Regions from separate parts of the Homo sapiens genome. Here region 2 is linked to region 1. Evidence: fine-mapped expression QTL. A gene starts in region 1. The other region holds a variant in brackets. All regions are shown on one strand. Distances are from middle to middle. Region 1 holds the start of LXN (latexin). Region 2 overlaps LOC100287290 (a long non-coding RNA gene).

Region 1 (8,000 bases):
GCTCACTGTAGTGAGCCGAGATCGTGCCACTGCACTCCAGCCTGGACGACAGAGTGAAACTCCATTTCAAAAAAAAAGAAAAAAGAAAATCTGTTGTTCTGTGTAGCCAACATCATCAACGATCTTAGGAGACCACTGATCATTGCTGCAGCTTCCACATCAGCACTTGCTGCTTCACCTTTCACTTTTACGTTAGAAATGGCTTCTTTCCTTAAACCTCATGAACCAACATCTGCTAGCTTCAAACTTTTCTTCTGCAACTTTCTCACCTCTCTCAGCCTTCATAAAATTGAACAGAGTTAGAGCCTTCCTCTGGATTAAGCTTTGACAGAGAGAGAGAGAATGTGCAAGCACAACTGGTAGGTAGAGCAGTCAAAACATATACAATTATATGGATGAAGTTTGCTATCTTATATGGGCAGGTTTCATGGTACCTCAAAATAAATTACAATAACATCAGAAATCACCAATCACAGATCACCATAACAGATATAATAATAATGAAAAAGTTTGAAATATTACAAGAATTACCAAAATGTGACACAGAGATGTGAAGTTAGAATATGCTATTAGAAAAATGGAGGTGAGGCCGGGCGTGGCGGCTCATGCCTGTAATCCCAGCACTTTGGGAAGCCGAGGCGGGTGGATCACTTGAGGTCAGGAGTTCGAGACCAGCCTGGCCAATACGGTGAAACCCTGTCTCTACTAAAAATACAAAAATTAGCCGGGCATGGTGGCGGGCACCTGTAATCCTAGCTACTCGGGAAGCTGAGGCAGGAGAATTGCTTGAACCTGGGAGGCGGAGGTTGCAGTTAGCTGAGATTGCACCACTGCACTCCAGCCTGGGTGATAAGAGTGAGACTCTGTCTCAAAAAAAAAAAAAAAGAAAAAGAAAAATGGAGCTGATAGACTTGTTCCACATGGGGTTATCACAAACCCTCAATTTGTAAAAAACATACTATCTGTGAAACACAATAAAGTTGAATAAAATGAGGTATGTCTGTTTAAAAATGGAAAATATAATTAAGGTTTTTAATTTTAAATTTCATATTTAATGTAATATTCTGACAACTCACTTTATCAGTATATTAAATAAAACAGTATATATATCACATTGAAATTACCATTCTAACAAACTAATAAAATTCATATCTTGTGTGTACATATATATTTATTTTCATGTTTTTCTGTAGTTATTATACCAAGTATATTCTTATTCTTATTAATCACCACTTTTAACCAAAGTAATCAACTTTTGCTTTCCCAAAGAGAAAACCAGAAGACAGAAAACCAAGAAATGTCAAGCTAAAATTTTTTTTTGAGACAGGGTCTGGTTCTTTCATCCAAGCTAGAGTGCACTGGTGCAATCTCGGCTCATCGCAACCTCCTCCCTGTGCTCAAGTGAGCCACCCACCTCAGCCTCCCGAGTAGCTGGAACTACAGGCACATGCTATCACATCTGGCTAATTTGTGTAGTTTACAGACAGGGCTTCGCCATGTTGCTCAGACTAGTCTCAACCTCCTGGGCCCAAGCGATCTTCCCACCTCAGCCTCACAAAGTGCTAGGATTACAGGTGTGAGCCACTGCACCTGGTTAGCTAAATTTTTATAAATACAAATTTTAGATTACTTCTATAATTTTAAGGTGGCAAAACAACACATATATAACAACCAAAGTATCTGCACATTGTGTTAATTCATAATCATTTTATAATGTATAAGAATAAAGGTAAACTGAAACTCTCTTTAGTAACCAAAGCTCTGTATCATGTATTAGTCAGAAATTGTCCAATTATCCCAGGACTAATTGAACATTATGTAAGGGCCTGAAAGTTAACTGGAGATCTGAAAAATTATAATTTTAGTTAACACATTTGGTCTTTATAATAGAAGCATAATTTTATAAGATTAAAACTCCTTTAAAAGACATCTGTATTAAAATTTTATTTAAACACCATTTTATATTTTGTAATCTTATACAACTGATTGAATCAGTAACTTGTTTGGCCCATTTGATCAATATATAAAATTTAGAAAGTTTAGATCATGAAAAGATCAAATTCAGTTTTATATGAACTTGGAATATTTTATCATTATGTAATAAAACCTGGAAGACATATAATCAACTTTAAATAAATATTATTTTGTTACAGCTCACCCAAATTCATCTATTAATCAGAAATATTTTATACATTTTTAAAAATATAATTTATAAACTTTATATTCAAAAATCATTAAATCATGTTTAAGAGCTCCTCTTTTATCTTGAAAACTTGTTTTTTTTTTTTTTTTTTTTTTTTTGAGATGGAGTCTCACTCTGTCACCCAGGCTGGAGTGCAGTGGCATGATCTCCACTCACTGCAACCTCCGCCTCCTGGGTTCAAGCAGTTCCCTGCCTCAGCCTCCCGAGTAGCTGGGATTACAGGCGCCCGCCGCCACGCCCGGCTAATTTTTGTATTTTAAGTAGAGACGGGGTTTCACCATATTGGCCAGGCTGGTCTTGAACTCTTGACCTCGTGACCCACCTGCGTTGGCCTCCCAAAGTGCTGGGATTACAGGCGTGAGCCACTGCTCCCGGCCGTAAACTTGCTCCTTATAAACATAATAATAAAGGCTATTTAAGTTCATTTGACCACATTAATTTTTACACATTTTTTAAAGCACAATGATTTTTTTCTTAGACATTTTTGGCTGTTTATTTGGACTAGATATTCCTGGACTGCACATATAATGACAGAATGACTTAGTCTCATGAATCATCTTTCAAATTTTTAATGAAAGAAAATGAGAAACAGGAAAAGGTGAGCTACAGCCAGTTTTAGACAAATATGAAATTATCACTGTAAAACGCTAATTATCTTTTCTTTTCAAGGAGAGAGGAAAAAGCTTAAATATAAGCCATGTTATTAATAAAAAACCTTGAAGTATGGAAATAAAATATGGGCAGTCTTCTACTTAAAATGCTCTTAGACAAATAAGACAAATACTGTTCTCCGAAAGTCTTATTTTTTTATTTCTGGTGTTCTTCTAAAGTGTCTCTCAAATGAACAGTCTTCTTCATGTCAAAGTTCCCCAAATTTCACCAATTCTTTGGTAAATTTATCCCAGGAGACAGTGTAAGTTCGTATCTGACAACCCCATCGAAAATTGGCTGATATTCTGTATTTGCAAAAATATTGCCATGGGTGGGTCAGGGTTTAACAAATGCTGAACTAAGAAACGTGGAGAGGCCAGGCACGGTGGCTCATGCCTGTAATCCTAACACTTTGGGAGGCAGAGGAGGGAGGATTGCCTGAACTCAACATGGTGAAACCCCATCTCTACTAAAATACAAAAAAATTAGCCAGGTGTGGTGAAGTGCACCTGTAGTCCCAGATACTAGGGAGGCTGAGGCAGGAGAAATGCTTGAACCTGGGAGGTGGAGGTTGCAGTGAGCCGAGATCACGCCACTGCACTGCAGCCTAGGCAACAGAGCGAAACTCTGTCTCCAAAAAAAAAAAAAAAAAGGTCATGTGTGAAAGACAGTGTCTCGCAAAGCAAATTTCTCATACACGGACAAGACTGAGAAAAGTTTCATTGACATTTGATACAAGATGATGGGCAAGCAGACAGATGGTATTTAAAGGCAAAGTCAATCAGAACCCCCAAATCCCAGGAGACAATAATAAGCATGAAACTGAGGCCAAAGTCCAGAATCCAGATTTACTGCAGAATCTACATAATCAGAAAGAGATACACCTCAAGAGTCTTGGGTGTGTGCATTACTACCAAGTTAAAGGTCCTGGCCAGGCATGGTGGCTTATGCCTGTAATCCCAGCACTTTGGGAGGCTAAGGTGGGTGGATCACCTGAGGTCAGGAGTTTGAGACCAGCCTAGCCTAAACCCGTCTCTACTAAAAATACAAAAAACTAGCCGGGCATTGTGGTGGGCACCTGTAATCCCAGCTACTCTGGAGGCTGAGGCAGGAGAACTGCTTGAACCCAGGAGGCGGACGTTGCAGTGAGCCGAGATAGCACCATTGCACTCCAGCCTAGGCAACAAGAGTGAAATTCCATCTCAAAAAAAAAAAAAAAAAAAAGAAAAGAAAAGAAAAAAAGGTCTCAATCCAGGCAGCGAAGACCTTGGCCAAACTTTGGTAGAATCTCCAAGTTATCCTAGCCCAATTAACCTAAGACCACCAAGGATAAACCTGTACTTCTACAAAGTCAGGTTTATAGGCCCATTGCAATGAGGTAGACCACATACCAGAGAGAGTGCTTTGTATAAGTTCAGTTTTTAAGTTTATTTTAATCCTTGAAGTAAAATATTCAAAATGACTCAAGTTGGAAGCATGGCGTTACATCAAAACTTATCATTTTAAGATTAGTAAAGGAGAGGGGTACAGGTGCATTTTTTTATTTCTCCTGATCCAAATTACATAATCTCCCAATTTAATACTATAGTTTGCAGATTCTCATACTTTGATTTGGGCAGAACTGGTCCAAACCCACAAAAAGCTGAGGATGAGCAAGCCTCTTCCTGGACTCTCATAAGGGGAAGGGAAATGAAGGAATCGAATCACTACCTGGAGTACTGTGTACCTTGCCCTGCCAGGGACGCTGCATGCGGTGTATAAGGAAGTTGTGCTCCAGTATGCAAGCGAAGCAACCAGACTTTTTTCCCATGGACAGGAAACTAGAGTCTTCAGAGATGTCCTATATCAGCGAAAGCCCCACCCTGCACTTCTATAAAGGTTAATGAAACGAAAGATGCAATCCCAGCGAACCTAGCCCACTGACTCCCTCCCCACACCTCCACCTGCTGGTGCCTGACAAGCATGCTGGCCTCTCCTCCAGTAGGAACCAGCAGGCGGAGTAAGGAAGCCCGCTGCAGGCAGTAGTGGGGCGGGGCCTCAGAAGCAGTCAGCCCAGGGCTCTCGGATGCAGGGAGCCTGGGCCCAAACAGCAGCTTCCGGAGTCGGAAGGAGCTGAGGAAGAAGACTGACTGAAGGAGCTTGCGACTTTTCCGCCTCGGCAACCGGACCCAGCAGCAAGCAGGACGGGCGGCGCTCTGCTACTGGTCCCGTTAAGCCAGAGTAGCCCAAGCCCTGAAGTCACTGCTCATCCGGAATGGAAATCCCGCCGACCAACTACCCAGCCTCCAGGGCGGCCTTGGTGGCACAGAACTACATCAACTACCAGCAGGGGACCCCGCACAGGGTGTTTGAGGTGCAGAAGGTCAAACAAGCCAGCATGGAGGTGAGTTTAGCAGGGGGTGGTGGACAGCAGAGGCTTCAGGATTGCGCTCCCTCCACTCACCCGCGGTCTCAGCCTTTGGGTGCAGACACTCCGTGCCACCCCCTACCCACCTTCTGTTTTAGGACACACTGCTGGTATCTGGTCTTGAGATATTAAGGTTTCTGGGGGAATGTCTATACTCCAGTCTCTGGAGACAGCCCGGGACTGTTTTCACCTTAAGGCAGAGACAAAGTTTTTACGCACACAGTTACAAGAAAACGGGAACACGCTCTAGGTAAGGGGCAGCACTTTCCTTAAGTGTAAACTGTAGAAACCATTCAAAAGACTACTAAGGCTGCCACGTTTCTCATCTGCTACTCTGATCTGGACCAACAAAAGCTCCCATCTTCCAAGACTCTATTGCCTACATTTTAAGACAAATCCTTATCAGACCCTTTGACCAAAATGAAGGGGGAAACAAACAGCAAGAGAAACTGACAATCAAAGTCAAAGAATAAAAGCACTGTGGGCTGACGCTGGCCTTTAGCCACCCAAACACCGCTACCACATGACTGCCTTAAATGATGTGCACCCTCTGCTAAAGGCTTGAATTAAATGTTTAAGGCCTCAGCAATCACTAACGAGGTTTGTTTTCATTTTACGAAAATCTACTGGATTTGAGATTATCCCTTATTTATCTGACAGAATTTTAACTGCTAACAGTCTTTTAGAGGTGACACAGTAGATCTTATTTTGAAACTGTACCAGATAACAGAATTAGGTATAAATTTTCAATCTGTATCTTGATTTAAAAGTGAAATACCATTTCTTAGTCTTATATAATTTGTTAATCATTTTGCAGTTTCACTAATGTATAAGTAAAAACAATACTTAATTGTATTAAGTCTCCAATTGCTTTGCAGTAATCTGCCTCAAAATGAAATTCACATTCATTGAACATTATTTGGAGGGTACACTGAGCTTTATGAAAAAATCTTTTCAAAGGTGATATTGTCATCTTTAGAATTAAACGCTGTTTCAAACTTTCTTATGTAGAGACTTTAAGATCACAGATCCAGGGGTTAAATAAAGTCTTTTGATGATTGAAAGTGAATTGTGCCCAATTTGTATGCTTTTATCCTACTCTTTTGTTTTCATCCAAAATAAACTTGATAGGGGACTTGCTAAATTAGATGTTACATTCATGGTGACATGCCTTTTTCAAGACCTAAGGCTTTCACCATTCCCCTTCAGCCAGCCCCTCCAACCAAATGAGATGCATACTTCTAACAATGCAAGTATAATGTTGTTATAATATTTTCTTGTCTCCACTACATTTTCTTAATTTTAGGATATTCCAGGAAGAGGACATAAGTATCACCTTAAATTTGCTGTTGAAGAAATTATACAAAAAGTAAGTTAAATTTCTTTTTTCTTTGAGACAGGGTCTCACTCTATCACCCAGGCTGAAGTGCAGTGGCAGAACATGGCTCACTGCAGCCTCAACTTCCCGGGCTCAGGCCATCTTCCCACCTCAGCCTCCCCAAATAGCTGGGACCACAGGTGCATGCCACTACACCTGGCTAATTTTTGTGATCCTCCTGCCTCTGCCTCCCAAAGTGCTAGGATTACAAGCATGAGCTACCAAGCCCAGCCAAAATGTTCTTATTAAACAAATTTAATTCTAAATATTCCAGATCATCTTTGCTGATCAAATCTGTAAGATTGATTAGTTTTACCTCTTTTTAAAAAGTTGTTGTGAAATACCTGCCTCTGAAAAACACTGACCATATGGGCAAAGTTTACAAGGATCAGTTCTTTACTATCTTTGGGTATTCCTAGGTATATGAATTATTTCTACCAAACTACACAAAAAAAGACTATACACTTCAGTTCAAATGAATTTCTTAAGAAGTTACATACTCTTAGGGCAGTCTGAACTTATGCCTAATATAAATGAGTGAAGTAATTTATTCCCCAATCAATCATCTTCTTAACGTCTGCTTTTCTCATTCTATTTTTCACTGGGTTTTTAGAGAAAGAACGTGCTCTTAGATATTCAGAAGCAATAGAATGCCAGCTGATACCACCATTCAGATGAAGATCTTTCAGTAATGGGGAAGGGAAATTTTAAAGATTATACACAACTGTCAAATTATTAATGAGACAAACTTAAAAGAAAGGAACTGCAATCTGTACCACAGCCATCTTGAAATTTTAAAAAGCTTGCCTTTCTGTTGAGCATAATTCATAAAGAGATTCATTAAAAGGCATCTGAGCTGCTAGACAGCCATCTTTACAAAGCATAACCCAATGCCATAATCTTCTAATTTTATATCCAGACACAGACTGCTGCATCTGCATTTCAAAAACTTTGTTATTTCAGGAGCAAAGAGTAAGAGTAATGGAAAAACTTTAAAAGTAACCAGTCTTGAGTTGGTATATAAAGTCAGATTAAAATCTGGCCTTGCAAATGGACACCCCATTAATACTGAAATATACTGAAAGTTTTAAGACTAGAATTCATAAGATTATGACACCATATCATTTATAAAGTAAGTTATCTATTTTAGGGTATTCACATGATAAGTCTAGAATTTAATAGGCCAGGCCCAATTAGATACCTCTGAAAACAAGCACTTTGAAGTCTAGTCTAAAACAACACCATTAGGAGCCTATGCTTTAAATCATATCTCAAAGATGATAATTAATAATGAATAGCCTTCTGTATATAAGGATATTTTGCTAAATTTCAAACAGCAAGTTAAGGTGAACTGCACAGCT
Region 2 (15,975 bases), 97 kb before region 1:
TAAAAAGCCAAGACTGTAATACTGGATAAAAATATATGTTGCTTACAACAACCACATTTTAAGTATAAGAAATAGATTGAATGTGAGAGGATAGAAAAAGAGTCACCATGTAAATATTCACCACAAGGGAGCTGAGGTAGCTATCCTAATATCAGACAAAAGAGATTGTAATGCAAGAAGTGTTACCAAACATAAAGAGGGGCACTTTATGTGATCAGGACTGAATCCAACAGAAAGATATCACAGTCCTAAATCCAAACACACTCAATAACATAGCTTCAAAATACAAAAAGTAAGAAATTGACAGATCTAAATTCCACTGAGATTGGGAGGCCAAAGCAGGCGTATCACTTGAGGTCAGGAGTTTCAGACCAGCCTGGCCAACATGGTGAAACCCCATCTCTACCAAAATTACAAAAAATGAACTGGGCTTGGTGGTGCATGCCTGTAATCCCAGCTTCTCAAGAGGCTGAAGCAGGAGAATCACTTGAATCTGGGAGGCGGAGGTTGCAGTGAGCCGAGATCATGCCACTGCACTCCAGCCGGGGCAACAGAGAGACACTCCATCTCAAAAATAAATAAACAAATTCCACTGAGGGAAGTCATTGATAGAATTCAAGACAAGTCTGAAGAGTGAAACACTACTAATTCTGAACTCATTATCACAAAGCTCCTAACTTGTATGAGTCCTGACTGGCATGAAGTTGTCTCAGGGACTCAAACGGGGGCAGCAGTTTGATGGTTAGCTTCATCTAGCCCACTAGATCTCTTGCAAGGTGAGACCTCTAGAAAACATCTCCAGCACTTCATTTAAAGTATTATGGGTATATTATATCCTTAAGTAAGAAACGGTGCAGCCCATCTGCATTTTTCTAAATGAATTCCAATCAGGGTCAGCAGGACACCAGGGCCCTGTCCCAGACTTGAGATCCACCAGCTCCTGTTTTTGTCAAAAAATAAACATAATCTGGCAGCTGCATCTTGGAACCCGGCAGCTCAGGAGTCCTCATCAGACACTTAGAACAGCAAAGGTCTCCAGGATTATGGTCCAAAGGGTCATAAATATGTAGCGAATTTTAAAATGCTGGTTTCCTCCCCAGCAAGGAGTACATCACTCAGTTCTGCTGTGTCACCAGTAATATCTACCCCAAAAGCTACTATTTCAGGAGGACCATTTATCTCTCTCCATCCTGTCTGCGTAGCAGGCCATTGCCTGCCCCCACAACACTCACTGCCCCCTCTCAAAATCTCAGGCCATAATCTCTGCATTAGAATCACTTTCTCCAGAAACAGATCATTCTGCTACATTTGCCCAGCTTTAACCTTCAATTTCAAGTTTGCTTCAGAACCCACAACCCAGCAGTACACAGTGATTGTCTTTTCTTCTTCTACTGCAAGCTTTGTAGTCTAATATGTACCACAGGAAGAAAATACACAGGACAAGTTTGGTTAGTCTGAAATTTCCTTATTATCTCTAAGAGTGCTGTGGGTGGTTGAGGCACTCTGGAATGTCATGGGACTTTAGCTTACTGTAATTTACCAGTTGTGAAATATATCAGTTCCTTTTTCTTTTCTTAAAATTTTCTTTTATTAAAGAGTCAACAAATTTAGCACTTGATGGGTCCCCTTAAATGTAAATAGCCAGGTACCTTTAGAAGTCTAAAAGTAAAATGAAACTAACCAAATAGTTAGTGGCTTCTCTACCGGTGTTGGCCAAATTGGGAGAGACAGAGGACCTAGAAATTTATATCTTTCAATTATTGAATAGGAAAAATTAAAGAAATATAGCTATCATTTAATCCAGCTTCTGTCTCTCATAAAAAATGGATTCAGTGGCTTGTGCAAACCAAATGTCCCAGACCTCAGAAGCTCCAGAGACCCAAATCAGGCCCCACTTCCAGTCTGTAACACAGCCCCAGCCTGTAATGCTCCAACTTAGTTGGTCAAAAGAACTTAGTATTTTATCAGATTCTTCCCCCTCACGTCCAGCCCGCCAAATATCTCAAGGGAACCCAGGAGGTGACACGATCCACACTCCCTCCTAACAGCCACAACTGCCCCTCCAGCCCCCAGGCCTGCCCTGCAGCCTTCCCACCCTTCCCCAGGCCGCTCTCCCCAGCCCTGGCCTCCTGCGTTCCTCTTGTGCAGCTTCTCTCGGGCACAGACACAAACCTCACCGGAGTTGTGTGGGAAGATCCCAAAGCCCTTCCCAATGCCACCCTGCAGGGTACTGGGATGCATGGGGGTAGTTGTGGCCTGTGGTCCCACTCATGCCCCTGCTTCTTGTCCCTCATGTCACTTCTTTCCCAGGTGAACATGGTCCTTTTTTGCCTTCAGTCCCCAAATCCACCTGTACAAATTTGCCAGATATGGCAGGCTCTCCATGAAGGTTTTGGGATAACACAGAGGGAGCACAGCGTACCCACCAAACAGAACAACCTTGAGGTAGAATAGGGTCTGAAGGCAGGGAACCTAAGGCTGTTTCACATTGACTTCATAGAACTAAATTGAAAGGAAAACCCTAACTTTCCATGCCTAAGTAACAAAAGGACCAGAGGCTACTCCCTTTGCAAACCCCCACCTTTTCTACAGGGCAGATGGGAAACTGAAAGTATCTCTGATTGGTGCCAAGCAACCAATCAGATGTTTGCATAGGAGTGTAACTTCATAACTTCACTTCAGCCTCTGACTGGTTGCTGTCCACAGCCAATCAGACTGATTGCGGACCAAGTCTTCCTTTGCATAAAAGTGCAACTTTGTAACTTCACCTTAGCCTCTCATGCTAAAGTGAATCTTAGGAGTTTGCATAGGAGTGTGACCCTTGTAACCACTTCAGCCTCTGAGTGGAAAGCAACCAGATTGATTGCAGGCCACCACTTCATTTACATGGGTGAACACCAGGTGGCCAGTGGGAAACCTCTAGGAGGTATTTGGACCCAAGAAGATTGTGTATCAGGACCCTTGTGTCCCTATGCTCGGGCCCACCCCCACACTGTGGACAGTACTTTCATTTTCAATAAATCTCTGCTTTTGTTGCCTCACTCTTCCCTTACTTTGTTTGTGTGTTTTGCCCAATTCTTTGTTCAAGATGCCAAGAACCTGGACATGCTTCACCAACAGCAACCTGAAATTGAAAACCGCTAATCATTGTTCTTAAAAGGTCCTTGGCCATCCAAGCCCTGGGGGTTTTCTACTGGCAGCCCTGATCTCATACTCATCCCACCACCAGTCCCTGGGTCCTCCCCATCCTTCTGCTCTTATCTCCACTGCTTCTCCTTTCCCAGGCTCTTCTTCCCTCTCCAGAGCTACCCTGACATTTCAGTTTCATCTTCTTTTATTGTACTGTGTGTTTCAGCAATCTGAGTGTTACTGTCTCCCACTCATCCTCACCTTTTGAAGAAAGAACCAAAAACAAAAACAAAAAAAGTCAATATAGGCCTTTCAAGATACTCCAAAAACTTAAGAAAAAAGTGTTAAGGCTATATTACAAGACCCCAGAAAAATGATGCTCAGAAGACAAAAGCAGTAATTTTTAGTTTAAATAGTACTTTTTCTCTGGCAGTAAGTACATCAGGGAGAGTCAAGACTTCCTCTTGGAAAAGTATGCCATCTGGTTCTTGTCATACTGTTGTGCTCCTTAACTCATTTCATGCAAAATTTCCAGCACCATGTTTGAGGGACCCTGATTACTCCTCATCCATGCAGTTTCAGAGCCACAGGAGAGATGCATGTGGGTGGGCAGAAGTGGAAGTTGTTTATGAGCATGAAGTATTTCTGAGAAATGAACGCATTGATGTTGGGATTTGAAATCTGATTTATCTCTTTGATGATTACGGGAGGAAATTTTATTATAAACAATAATATTTGCTGGCATATGCATGGATGTCTGAACTCAGATGATAAAAACTAGAGGATTTTGAGCATCTTGGAAAAAAATTGTACAATTAATTTAAGATTTCTTACATGACCTAGAAAATGAAAAGGGGAAGCAAATACACTGGAAAAAAAAGAAGGTGGAGGAGGATCACATTACTCCTTCACAGTTAATTAGAAGAACTTTCAACCAAAACACATAACTGGGTAACAAATACCAGGTAATTTTCTTTGACTGAATTTTTTTTCACTTCATTTTCTTTGAAGTGAAAAAAAGTAATTTTTAAATACAGGAAATAATATTTTATGACTGAGTATTCTCTTCAAAGAATCTGGGTCAGCAGCTCATTTCAAATTTTCAGTGCCTAGAGGACGATAATACTTAGTGCTGTTTGCTGGTGATTTACAACACTTTCGTGGCTTAAGACCAAGAATATACATATTAAAAATCATGCTCTGCCTGAATCCAACAAGCAGATGCCCCACCTTCTTTTAAGGAAGAACATGACAATAATGAACGGATAATAGAGTACAAACAAAGACACTCAAACTGCATTTCCTAATGTTGCAAATGTTAATATTGAGTAACAAAGCATCATTTCTATTAAAGCTGGCCTTCAGCCACTCCCTTATGAGGTAGGTGGAAAGAAATCTTTTTACTTTCCCATAATTCTACTACTTACGGGAAAGCAAGTTGACTTTGCCCAGCATTGATGCAAAGAGCATGACACAGAGTTCAAGCCGCAGCACTGCTGCTCAGGAGAGTGGAAAAGAGAAAAGTTATTGGCACAATAGCAACCAAGTGTTTCATCTAAATGTTCTGTTTCTTGAGCTCCCAGGTAACTCAGCTTCACATCTTTTCCTTGTACAGGTCAACTCCACTTAGGTAGAATGTGAATATATAGTATGAGAGGCCAAAAACCCATACCTATATAAGCAAAATTATCTCCCCCTACTGCCAATTCATAAAAATAACACCTGCCAGAATGGAACAGAATGCTGAAAAGTCTACCTTGAAAAGATGAGCGATTTTCAAGCCAAGAAAACTTGAATGTATGAAACCCCCTAGAAAGAATGTGTCATCCAGGGGGTAATTGGCCCATCGCAGAAACATGGAAAAGAGGAAAAGGAAGACAGCAGGGCACAGTGTTCATAAGAAAGAGACACAGGATGCTTTTTAAGAAACTTGGGTGTGAAAGCAAAACAGGCAATATTTAGAAAGGAACTTTTGGTCAATGGGTGGAAATGGGTTAAAATAGGAGCCATTTGCACATAATTATATTCTAAGGGGAAGGAAGCAATAGAGAGAGCAATTGAAAATGTAAGGAAGAGAGGGAAGAACTGATGTGGGTGAGGGTGCATGTTTAGAACACAGGCTGGGAAGAGTCGGCCGCGGGAGTCACACTGCTAATAAAAGGCAGAGACCAGGGGTTTTTGGACCTGGGTGCAAATTGTGGTCTTGCCACTTTCTATCTGAGGGACCTTGTCACCCTGATGGTGAAAAACAAGCCTGTAACAGAAGAAAGGAAAGACAAGAACTGGGAGGCTGTGATAAGGGAGCTGCATATATCAGCAGTGCAGCAAGTCTGGCTGTTGACATGGTTCTTGGTGAGCCCAAGAGAGCTGACTGCTGGAAAAGAGTAGAGGAGAACATTTTCAGCCTCAGAAATATCACTGGCCTCTGATGGGAGAGATAAGTGGTCTCAGGGCCTAATGAGTGCTGGAGAATTCATTCATTCATTCAGTGAACATGACTGAGGCCTCTCACTTTGCTAGACATTTTGGAAGACAGGGGTCAAAATCACAGTTCCTACTCTCAATTAGCTCACAGCCCTGTACTAGTGATGGACAAAGAACCAGTATGTGACAGTTCAGACTAATAAGCCCAACAAGAGAGGGATATACAGGACACTGTGGGACCCCTAAAGGGAGCACCTTGTGCAGAGGTAGAAGGATAGGAATGAACGAGGGGTGACGGGTAACAGGAAGAGAGAGAAGCACCGCAGGAGTCTCTGAAGAGTGTTCACAGGGGGTGCGAGGCTTGCTGTGCAGAAACCAATAGGGGCAGGTGAGAAATGCTGACCCCAAGGGATGAGCAGGCTCATGTCAGGGTGCTACAACCGTCCCCTCCTCTTCACTCTTTCCTGCACCCCAGACTCCAAGTCTTAAACTAGGTTATCTCCCCAGTGGCCTGGCCTGCCCCCCGAATGCTCTCAAACCAGTATCTTCTAACCCTAGTCAAAAATTACCCCTTCCCTTCAGCTAGCCATTAGAATTGAAACAAATTCCCACTGCCATGTGAAAGTCTGATTATCCTACTGTTCCCAAGGCACCAGCCTTTTAGTGGGATGTTTGCTGTAGTAGATTGTATCTTCCAAAAATGGCCACAAAATGTTTCTGAGTCCACATGCTCATCCAGAAACTTTCTACTCCCTCATTAAGAGATAGAATCTATTTCCCTTCCCCTTGAAATTGGGCTGCCTTTGTGACTTCTTCAATAAAAAGAGCTGCTTGGAACCCCCACCCACAGCCCTTACCTCCCCTGCATCCATGAGCACACCCCTCTGGGACTATACTGTCTACCATTGCCTCCCTGACTTGGGACTTTGGCTCTGGAGTTCACTCCCTACCCCAAGGCCATAAAAAACCCCCACTGCACTCTTTAGTCCCTGGGCTCCAGCCACTGCCCTCTCCCCAGATTTCTCTGTTTTCTGCCATCTCTGTGGGATCCGCATAATCTGCCTCCAGCAGTTTCTGGGAGTGAACCCAGCTATCTTGCTGAAGGTAGGGTAGGGGTGGATGCAACAATGGGCTGATTGTTATCAATATGTATGGCAAGATATTATCTTGAGATATTAATCTGTGGGTTTTTCTTTGCTCACTTCCTTGTACAGTGACCAAACAGCCTCACGCAAGAGTACAGTTGGTAAAGAGGGACTGAAAAGAGCCAAAAATGTCAACGTTCATATTTGTGACTCTAAAACAGCATCCAAGAATCAAAAAAGCAAGGCTTGGGGCACAAAGCACAGAGACATGTGGACCAGGGACAGGGATATACAGACAGCCCTATCCCAGTGCCTCCAGGGAGACCAGAGTAAGGTGTGCTGGGCCGAGGGAGGGGAGGAGCACATGGTGAGGAGCAGGTCCACATTGGAAGTCTTGGGAGCCCCAGGAGCCCCTCAGCTGGTTGCATATTCCCAGAGATGTTTGCCAAGCCCTGATTACATATCCACACTCCCCTGAATGAACACACCCTCCCCATTCCAGTGTCTAAGGACTCTCATGAGCCCTGCAGATCTGTTAGGAACACTTTCAGCTCTAAGCAACAAAAGATATGATTAACAGTGCCTTAAACACTACAGGTGTATTCTTTCACACAACAAGAAGGCTGTAAGTGGGTAGTTTGTTGGTAAAAATGCAGTTTATCCAGGACCTAGCTCATGAGCTTAGGATTCAACTAGTTCTGGAATCATCCTTAGGAATCTATAATTCTGAAAACTTCCTAGGTGATTCTAATTTGCAATCAGATATGGAAGCCACTTCTCCCAAGTTTACTAAGGCTGCTGTACTCTCCCCTCTTCTGA[G/A]TTTTCGGAGTCCATTAGCTTTCAGAGGAGTCAACAGTGCTACCAGTGAACACCTGACTAATTTATTCACTCAAATGGTCAGCACACCGTAATTGCTCGCTTTTTACCTGGTAGCATCAGCTCAGTGAGGGTTGTGAACTGGGCCTAGAGACATGAGAATTCAGCAGCATTTCCAAACTGGGTAGAATTTCCACAGACTATTTCAAGTGCTTTTTTTTTTTCCATTCAAGAAAGATGGGGCAACCAGCCAAGTAAACATGGTTGTTTTTGTCTGTTTTGTGTTGCTAAAACAGAATACCTGAGACTGGGTAATTTATAAACGATGATTTATTTGGCTCATGTTCTGGAGGCTGGTGCTGGAATCTGGTGAGGGCCTTCTGGCTATGCCATTTTCTGGTGGAAGCGAAAGAGAGAGAAAACAGGGCCAAACTCATCCTTTTATCAGGAACCCACTCCCACAGTAACTAACCCACTCCCAAGATAATGGCATTAAGACTGTCCTGATGACCTCATCACCTCTTAAAGGTCCCACCTGTCAACACTGCTGCATTGAGGATTAAGTTTCCAACACATGAAACTTGAGGGACACATTTAAACCATAACAATGGTGGGCTGAACATTGTCTTTTGCCTATATTCCCACCCCCAAAATTCACTACAGTATCGAGATTTTGTTAAAGGCAAAAAACAAATAAACAAACCATCTCAAGGACAAGGCTAAAAGAGAAAGGAGCAAGTGTGGAGAGAGAGAGGTAAACACGATGTCGGAAACCGGAAAGCAGGTGGTAAATGATGAGTAACTTAGAGACCAGGCACAGGTTGCAGAGAGGAGGCAGGAAGACAACAGACTGGCCCCGGAGCACCTGGTAGGCATAGAATTGGAGGCCCCAGGAACCTCTCTGGTTGTGGGGTGTTGGTTAAAAGGCTATACTAAATACAGCTTGATCCTTTGATCGCTTCTCCACTCCCATCAGACAAGGCACCTCTCTCATCCTACAGAAGACATACCAGAGAAGGGGATAAGGGCCAAGTCAGCATGCTGAATGGCGAGAACAGCCTGCAGCCTTTCGCCACTGCATCTGAGAATCCTGGTGACTCAGCTTAGACACATGGGGCGACAGGCTACAAATTTCTTCTCTGGAGAAACTGAGCTCCTCAAAGAAAAGACTTATAAACAATGACTACTGGGGATTATAATCAAATATACATATTCAGAGAAAGCCAACACAGCACAAAAAGCAGAATAAACTTTAAGGAAAACTGTAATTAATATCTTCGGAGAAAGAATATAACTGCATCTACAAAAAAGAACAAACTACTCATAAAACAAAAATGAGCTCTCAGTTCTAAAAAAATATAAAAACAGGAAAAAAAAATCCAATAGAATCCAAACAGGCTTTACTGGGAAGGTACTGGAGGATATATTCCACAAAATGAAAGAGCAAACCAGGAAAAAGGCATACAAAGGATTCAAGAGAGAGGGATCCAACTAAGGAGAACTGAACGACACATCAGAGCAGGAAGCCAATGGGCTCCAGAGGGGATGTGTTAAAAATAAAAAATCAGTTGATTACCTGATGTGTTTGAACTATTAAGAGGAGATTAACACTGCTGGCAATGCGTTGGAGGAGAATTAGGGACAGAAAAATATCAAAACAAGATAATTTTGAACTCCAGGGAGAAAAAGAAGTTGTATAACAACGGAAGTATTATCAGTGTACACTGTGTGCCTTACCGGGGAAAACATTTATAATAATCACAACAGTTAACTTTGAGTAGTTACTTAATTAAAAAATACAATATAATTACATTGGAAGAATAGGGGAACAAAAGTGCTCAATCTTCATCTTTCATAGGAAGAAGTCAAAGTTTCTGCCTAATCTGAAAAATCAACACAGAAGCATATAATTTAGATACCTGGGGAAACATGTGGAACTTTCAACTAGCCGCGCCAGTTGAAAATGGGACTGGTTTCTCTGATGAGAATGGCTGGGTAGGAAATGGTAATCTGTCAGACCACAAGGAATTTTTCTAGTCAACAAACTCCAGATGTTTGTGATTCTTTTCCTCCTGGTTCACTGGGTTCAGCCAAAGTCCTCCCTAGAAGATTGCCAAGTGTAAGCTGTGAGGAAACACACAATGAACTTCATTTGAACTCTGTTTCATCTTTTCTTTTTTAAGCCAAAAATGTCATAACAAATAGAAAGGAGACAAAGTAGATGCAGATATGCGGGGGTATTAGTGCAGAGGGTCTATCCCTTGAGCCTTTCTTACCAACACGAAGAACTGCGAGTGGCTTCTCTACTGACCCAATGGACTGAGCATTTCCCACACATTCAAATGAATGAAAGAGTGAACGAATGAACAATAGACAAGCCCATTATTCTTCATGCATTGTGAGTGCCTAACACACATTAGGTACTACACTGTTTGGCTCCAGCACTTCTATCCGATTCACTCAGAGTTTTAACGACCTCTGTGTGTATTGTTATGTATGAAGTGGGCACCACTGATGTGCCAGGGATACTCCCCATCTTCAAAAGTATTACAATCCATTTGGGGAGGCAAAATGTGAATAAAGGAAAATTTAAACCAGTGACCACAGACAGCCGAGTTGTGGGTGCAGAGGAAGGAGCTACTGTGGGCCTGGTGTGGAGTGGACAGGCTTTCCCAACACTGGCTGCAAATCCTAGAGTATTTCCCACATATGTGTTCGTGCCGAGGATGGGAATAGGGAAGACAGTGTCACACCAACTGACACCTGTTAACAAAAGTCAGCAAAGAGCAAACGTGGTCGGCTTCCCGCAAGCATTCTCATGTTTCCCTTGGTGCTTTAACTCTAAGGCAGAGAAACAGCCATTCTCTTTCCTTCTCTGCCGGCAGGGAAGTGGGAGGGGCACTGGCCAGCTGCCTGTCCTGCTCACTCACAGTGACTGCAGAAGTCAATTGATTCCCTACTTTCCCAACTCCCGCCCCCACCACCAACCTTGGGTACTTCTTCCCATTGGAATAATGATTAAACCATTGTCCATCAGTAACTGAGAAACTGTTCCCTGATCTGGACCCCTTTTTTTGGTGTTTTCTAGTGCTGGAATTCTGTGTCTCCTCTCCTGTGTGCTCAGGAAACCACCAGGTCCAATGTCAGCCCCATTAGTCAATATCAGAGCAGCCCCTTCCTAGTTGTAGGAGGAGTATCCTAATGGAGGAGAACTCTTGGTCTCACTCTGCAATTGCTCAGACTTCCAAGTGTAGAGTCTTTACTAAAGGCATTTCTTTAGCTCTGGCTACTTTGCTTTTATTTACTCATAAAAATATCAGGAGGTGCAATACACTTTCAGTTTTATAAATATTCCTTTTTAGCAAAATGCATACTCTTTGCATTTCAACCTCTCTGACTTTGGGAAATCAGATGACTATAAGAGGAGCACAGTCTTTAAAAGGCTCTTGCATTCTGTGGGACAGTTAATTCCGGAGACTTGGCTGCTTGTGTGCATTTTGGAGTGCTCAGCTCTAACTACATGCATCTAGAACAGACGCACACAGGAGACCCTCAAAAAATATTTTTTAAACAATAAAAAATTAGGCCAGGTGCGGTGGCTTATGCCGGTAATCCCAACGCACACCTGTAGTCCCAGCTACTTGGGAGGCTGAGGCAGAAGAATCGTTTGAACCCAGGAGGCGGAGGTTGCAGTGAGCAGAGATCGTGCCACTGCACTCCAGCCTGGGTGACAGGGCAAGGCTCTGTCTCAAAATAAATAAATAAGAATAAAAAATTAAAACCTTGCACCTGATGGCTGTAAGCTTATCATACCACAATATGAGAAACTGTTGGCAATTTCTATTTTGTGTTCTGTTCACATACATTTGTCCATCCTGTGAACTTACATAGACTCCACCAATTTGTTTGAGGCTGCCCTGAGAACTTATGCTGATTAACCTAGTGGCTCTATGTTCAGGTGTAGGGAGAAAGGCCTCTCTTCTTGCTCTTTCCAAACGAAGTACTTCTTGAGATCAGCACCAGGAGGACAGGGCTCCAGCTGCCATTTTCCTTGAACCACGCAGGCCCTCTAGCATAGATTTGGCGTGTAGGAAAATCTCCATGAGTGCAGAAAGCAGCTGAAGAAGTCACAGGAGGAAGATCCCCATAAGCCCTGCCCCAAACATGCTCCATTTAAGGATTCTGTTATGGAGGCTTAACACCAACTATGTGTCAGTGGTAAATAAGACAGACAAAGCTCTGCTTTCAAGGAACCTATAGTCACATGGAGGAGCTGGAAATTGCAGGGTCCTGTGGGGGCACAGAGAGGAACATGTGGCCCAGATCGCCACAGAGAAAGTAACCTCTAAATGCTGACACCTAAAAGATAAGTAGCAATCATTAAGCCAAAGCAGGTGGGCGAGAGATGCTGTGATTTATTTGGAATAAACCTAGAACAGAGAATGCAAGGGGAAGAAGTAGCCAAAGGGGAGGTAAGAGATGCCAGGGGAAGATCACATAGGGATCGTGTTAGAAGGTTTGTCTTTATCCTGGGAGAAATCGGGAGTCACTGAAGTAATTTAAGCAAGGAAGGGACATGATCAGATTTGCATTTTAGAAATATCAAATAGTGATTTAAACCAGGGGAGTGGTAGTGGAGATGATGAGAAGTAGCAGAATTTAAGAATCATTTAGGAGGCAGAATTTATAGATCATGGAAACTGAATGAATGAGATGGATGAGAGAGGGGGGGAAGTCAAGATCAAGCTGCAGGTTTCTAGTACAAGCAAGTGGGAGAATGGAGGTGCCATTCCTGAGCTAGAGCACGTAGAAGAAAAACAGGTTTGGAGAAAGTGGGAAGACAATGATTTTGTTTGAGCTGGTTGAATCTGAGTCACCTGTAGGACATCCAAGTGTAGACAGATGTCCATCACATGGTTGTGCATTTGGGTCTGGAGCTCAGCAGAAAATCTGGGATTTGGAAGGCATCAGCATAGAGATGGCTGTGAAAGCCATGAAAGTCAGGGGGTGGGCAGGGGGTGTAAACTGGTTAGTTGATGGATTAATTGGTTGGTTTAAAGGTAATACAGACAGTTAATACTAGCTCTCCAGCTGAAGAATCAGAGCACATTTCAAGAAGATCAGTTTAACATTCCAAGGCTAGAGCTTAACCAAGACCACGCTAACTCTGTTCAAGGGCCTAGAGCCGCACTGCCCAACACAGCAGCCACTAGCTGCATGTGCTTTCTTAAATTTAAATGAATTTAAATTTAATTTAAAACTCACTTCCTCAGTCATACCTGCCACCTTTCCCATGCTTGATAGCCACATGTGACTAGTGACTACCATATTTGGCAGCACAGATATTATGGAACATTTCCAACATCACAGATAGGTCCATTGGACAGTGTTGCCCTAGTTATTTGCATTGTCAAAATTAAGAGCTGACGCAAACACCACAAGCATTGTGCAGCTTAAATTAGCAGAGGAGGGCAGCAAGATGATGCATGTCCTTTCCAAGCCACTCATCACCCAAGAAAAATATACTTAAACCAGGCACCCCAGATGCAGCCTGTCTTGTGCTCCAGGAGAAGGAGCCCCTGCAGCTCTGCCTTTTGCTATAGACTTTGAGACTGAGAGCAGGCGGCAAAACCTAACCAAGGATGTGACTGGAGGCTTTTGTGGGAAGGAAGCCTCTTAGTGGAGATGAATCTCCTGCCAGCTGATCAAGGGTCCCCCTTCCAGGGTTCTAGAGGAAGTGAGCCATGGAAATTCCTTAGGCAGGGTAGAAGCCCTGTGCCCAGTGGCTTGTTGCCAGGAACCCAGAGAGATTCAGGTCATTCGGGGGACAGTACTACCAGGGCCTTCTCAATGATAAAGCACATTCTATGCTTCTTTTCTAAATTAAGCTTTAAACCTTTATTGACAATGTTATATTAATGATATAAAAAGTTAGACTCACAGGACATTGGAAGTCATCTGGTTTTCTCCTGACACAGCTGGGAGAGATGACCCTTCCTCTGCTGATGGTCCTCCAGTGACCTCCCCAGTGGAGGATTTATAATTTAGATAGATGTGTGTGTGCATGCGTGAGTGCGTGTGTGTGTGTGTGCGAGGGAGAGAGAAAGAGAGAGAGAGAGGCTCTCTACTGGTTCTGTTTCTCTGAAGAACATTGAATAATACACAGATAATATCCAGTTCAACCACATTCTATTTAATAGCTACATGGCAATCCAAATCCATGTTGATGGATATTTGCGCTGTTTGTTACAGTGCCACAGTGAACATTCTCAGTCATGTCTCAGTGTGTGCAAATGCACTTTTAAAATGCATTGTAGAAGTGGAGTTGCTGGATCAAAGGGCATGGACATTTAAATTTCATTAGGTGTTGCCAATTTCCTTTCCAAAAAGTTGCACCAATTTACATGCTACTAACCAGGAATAAGAATGCCTGTTTTTCCATGTAAGAAGTGGTTGGTTGGTTGCTTAGTTTGCTGGTTGAAGATGGGCAACACTTAAGCATGCTTAAAACAATGAAATGAAAGAAAGGGGCAGGAGAAATAGAGAAAGAGAAGATTATAGAAAGGGAGAAGCTAGAGGAGAAAGAGCACAGAGTGCATGTGCAGGGATTCACCCTGGAGAGGAGGAGGGACTCTCCTTCCATCACAACAAAAAGAGGAGAATGGGGTGGAGCTAGTCAGTTTGTAAGTTTGGTGGCAGGAAGAGGCTTTTATTTTTTCTGAAAGGTAAAAGGCATGAGTGGTTGCTTAAAGTGATGGTGGAGGAATTAGGTTGGGAGGTTGGTACAGAATAAATATTAAGGTAACCACCATGAAGAATAGGAGGGAAAGTTGACTGGTAAAACAAAGAATGATTTCCAAGCAGCATTTAAGTCTGATCGTTTATTTTTAGCCAAACACAAGTTTTCAAAAACACTTCCACTCAGTCTCCATCAATACATCCCTCCCTCCTAACAGAACACAATGGAGGAGCCACTTGCAGGCAGGCCACCATCTGAGAATCCCTCAAGACCAGGAAGGCAAGTGGGGACCTTCCCAAGCATGGAAGTTAAGCCCCCACTGCAGGGTTTTTTGTGTACCAGAGGCATCCATGTTCTCCTAACTCTATAACCAAGGGCCTCTCTCCACTTGGTTACAGAGGCACCTATGGTGTGGTTTCAGGATGTCCTCAAAACATCTCCCCCATCACTCCCGAAAATTCACCTCAGAGAACTAAGAGTTGGTCCTTGCTTCTTGCTGAGGTACACAACAGATGCCCACTGCAGCCTATATTCCTTAGTAAGGACTAAGATCCCTTAGTCCAGTCCTATTGTCCAGCCCTCTCTCCAACAGTTCATCCCATGCTAACTCTGATGGTGCCGCTGCACTCCAACCTGGGCTACAGAGTGAGACCTTGTCTGAAAAATAAATAAAAAATAAGACACCTATCAATGACCCCCTGCGACAGTGCAGCAGTGGGGGAAGGACCTCGTAGGCAGGTTGTCTATGTGCTGCCAAGGGCAGGTCAGAAGGAGGGACCCTAACAAGCTGCCTTCGCCTTGAAGCTCCGTGTTTCACTGTTTGGCCCTGCCAACACATAGAAATTAGATACCCACATGTTTTTTCAAATTAACAAACCTAAAATTGTATTTATTTACTTTTCAATGAATTTGAATCCTCCAGTGGTACAGCATCACATGGATTCTGTGCCCAATGGCCTTAGCAGGAGGGTGGCTTTGGAACTTGGCACAAACCACGCTGTTCTTTCCTTGGGCACAAGTTACCTTTCCCCAGATGACTCTGGTTTTGTTTGATTTGCTGCCAGGGCCACTGTGTTGTTCTTTGCACACATAAGTACATCTGTTTCCCAAATAAAATTCAGTTTCATCTCGGGCATAAACACCTTCAATTTCAAGAACAGTTGTGTGCTCCCTCTGGTTCCAGAAATGTCACTTCTAGCAAAAGTGGCCTCAGGGCACAGCCCTGCAGACATGTTTGCTGTTTCAGAAGCCCTGTTCCCATGGGCCTCTCCAGGCTCCAAGAGGGCAAAAAGAATGAATTTGATATCTTTTGATAGAATAAGAATCTCTGTTTCATTAGAGAAGAACAAAGTACTATCTTATACAATGTATCCCAAAATAAACTGTTTTAATTGCTGAATCTAAGACGTAGTGATACATGTAGTCCTAAATCTTACTCCAATTCCTTAAAACTAGCTTGAATTTCCAGAAGGTTGGTGTCCTACTATTTGTGATGAAAAATTAACACTACAAAAAAAATAGCTCCACTAATAATTCCACCAGCGAAAAATTACTTCACTTCTCACTATTGAGATTTTGAAAGACTGCGTATCTGTTTACCTGGACATCTTCCTAAATTTCATAATTAATCCTCAAATGATGTAAGTAAAAGTTCTGCAGGTCAGTAGGAGGAAACAGAATTGAATTTTATAAAGTATTAAGATTTCTCAAGATACGGCCAAAGGCCATACTCCCTTGGGCTCTGGAGGATCATGTTCTCAGGAAAAGTAGAGTTAGGGTTGG

Evidence for each region.
Region 2: its variant is fine-mapped to the expression of LXN in fibroblasts (GTEx, PIP 0.96).

The regions. Positions count from the first base shown.
Region 1 is chr3:158,669,587-158,677,586 of GRCh38, reverse strand. It overlaps LXN (latexin), which reads left to right and starts at 4,939. Exons shown (of 6, transcript NM_020169.4): 1 at 4,939-5,237; 2 at 6,568-6,630; 3 at 7,977-8,000. The coding sequence starts at 5,109. All of the region lies in intron 13 of GFM1 (G elongation factor mitochondrial 1), which reads right to left. RefSeq lists enhancers at 4,566-4,755, 5,066-5,115, 4,537-5,129, 5,556-5,615, 5,130-5,722.
Region 2 is chr3:158,762,881-158,778,855 of GRCh38, reverse strand. All of the region lies in intron 4 of LOC100287290 (a long non-coding RNA gene), which reads right to left. It also overlaps the pseudogene RPL35AP9. Among named protein-coding and RNA genes, the nearest start is that of MFSD1, 31 kb to the left of the region's middle. RefSeq lists an enhancer at 3,273-10,389. The variant G/A (reference allele first, on the strand shown) is at 7,458.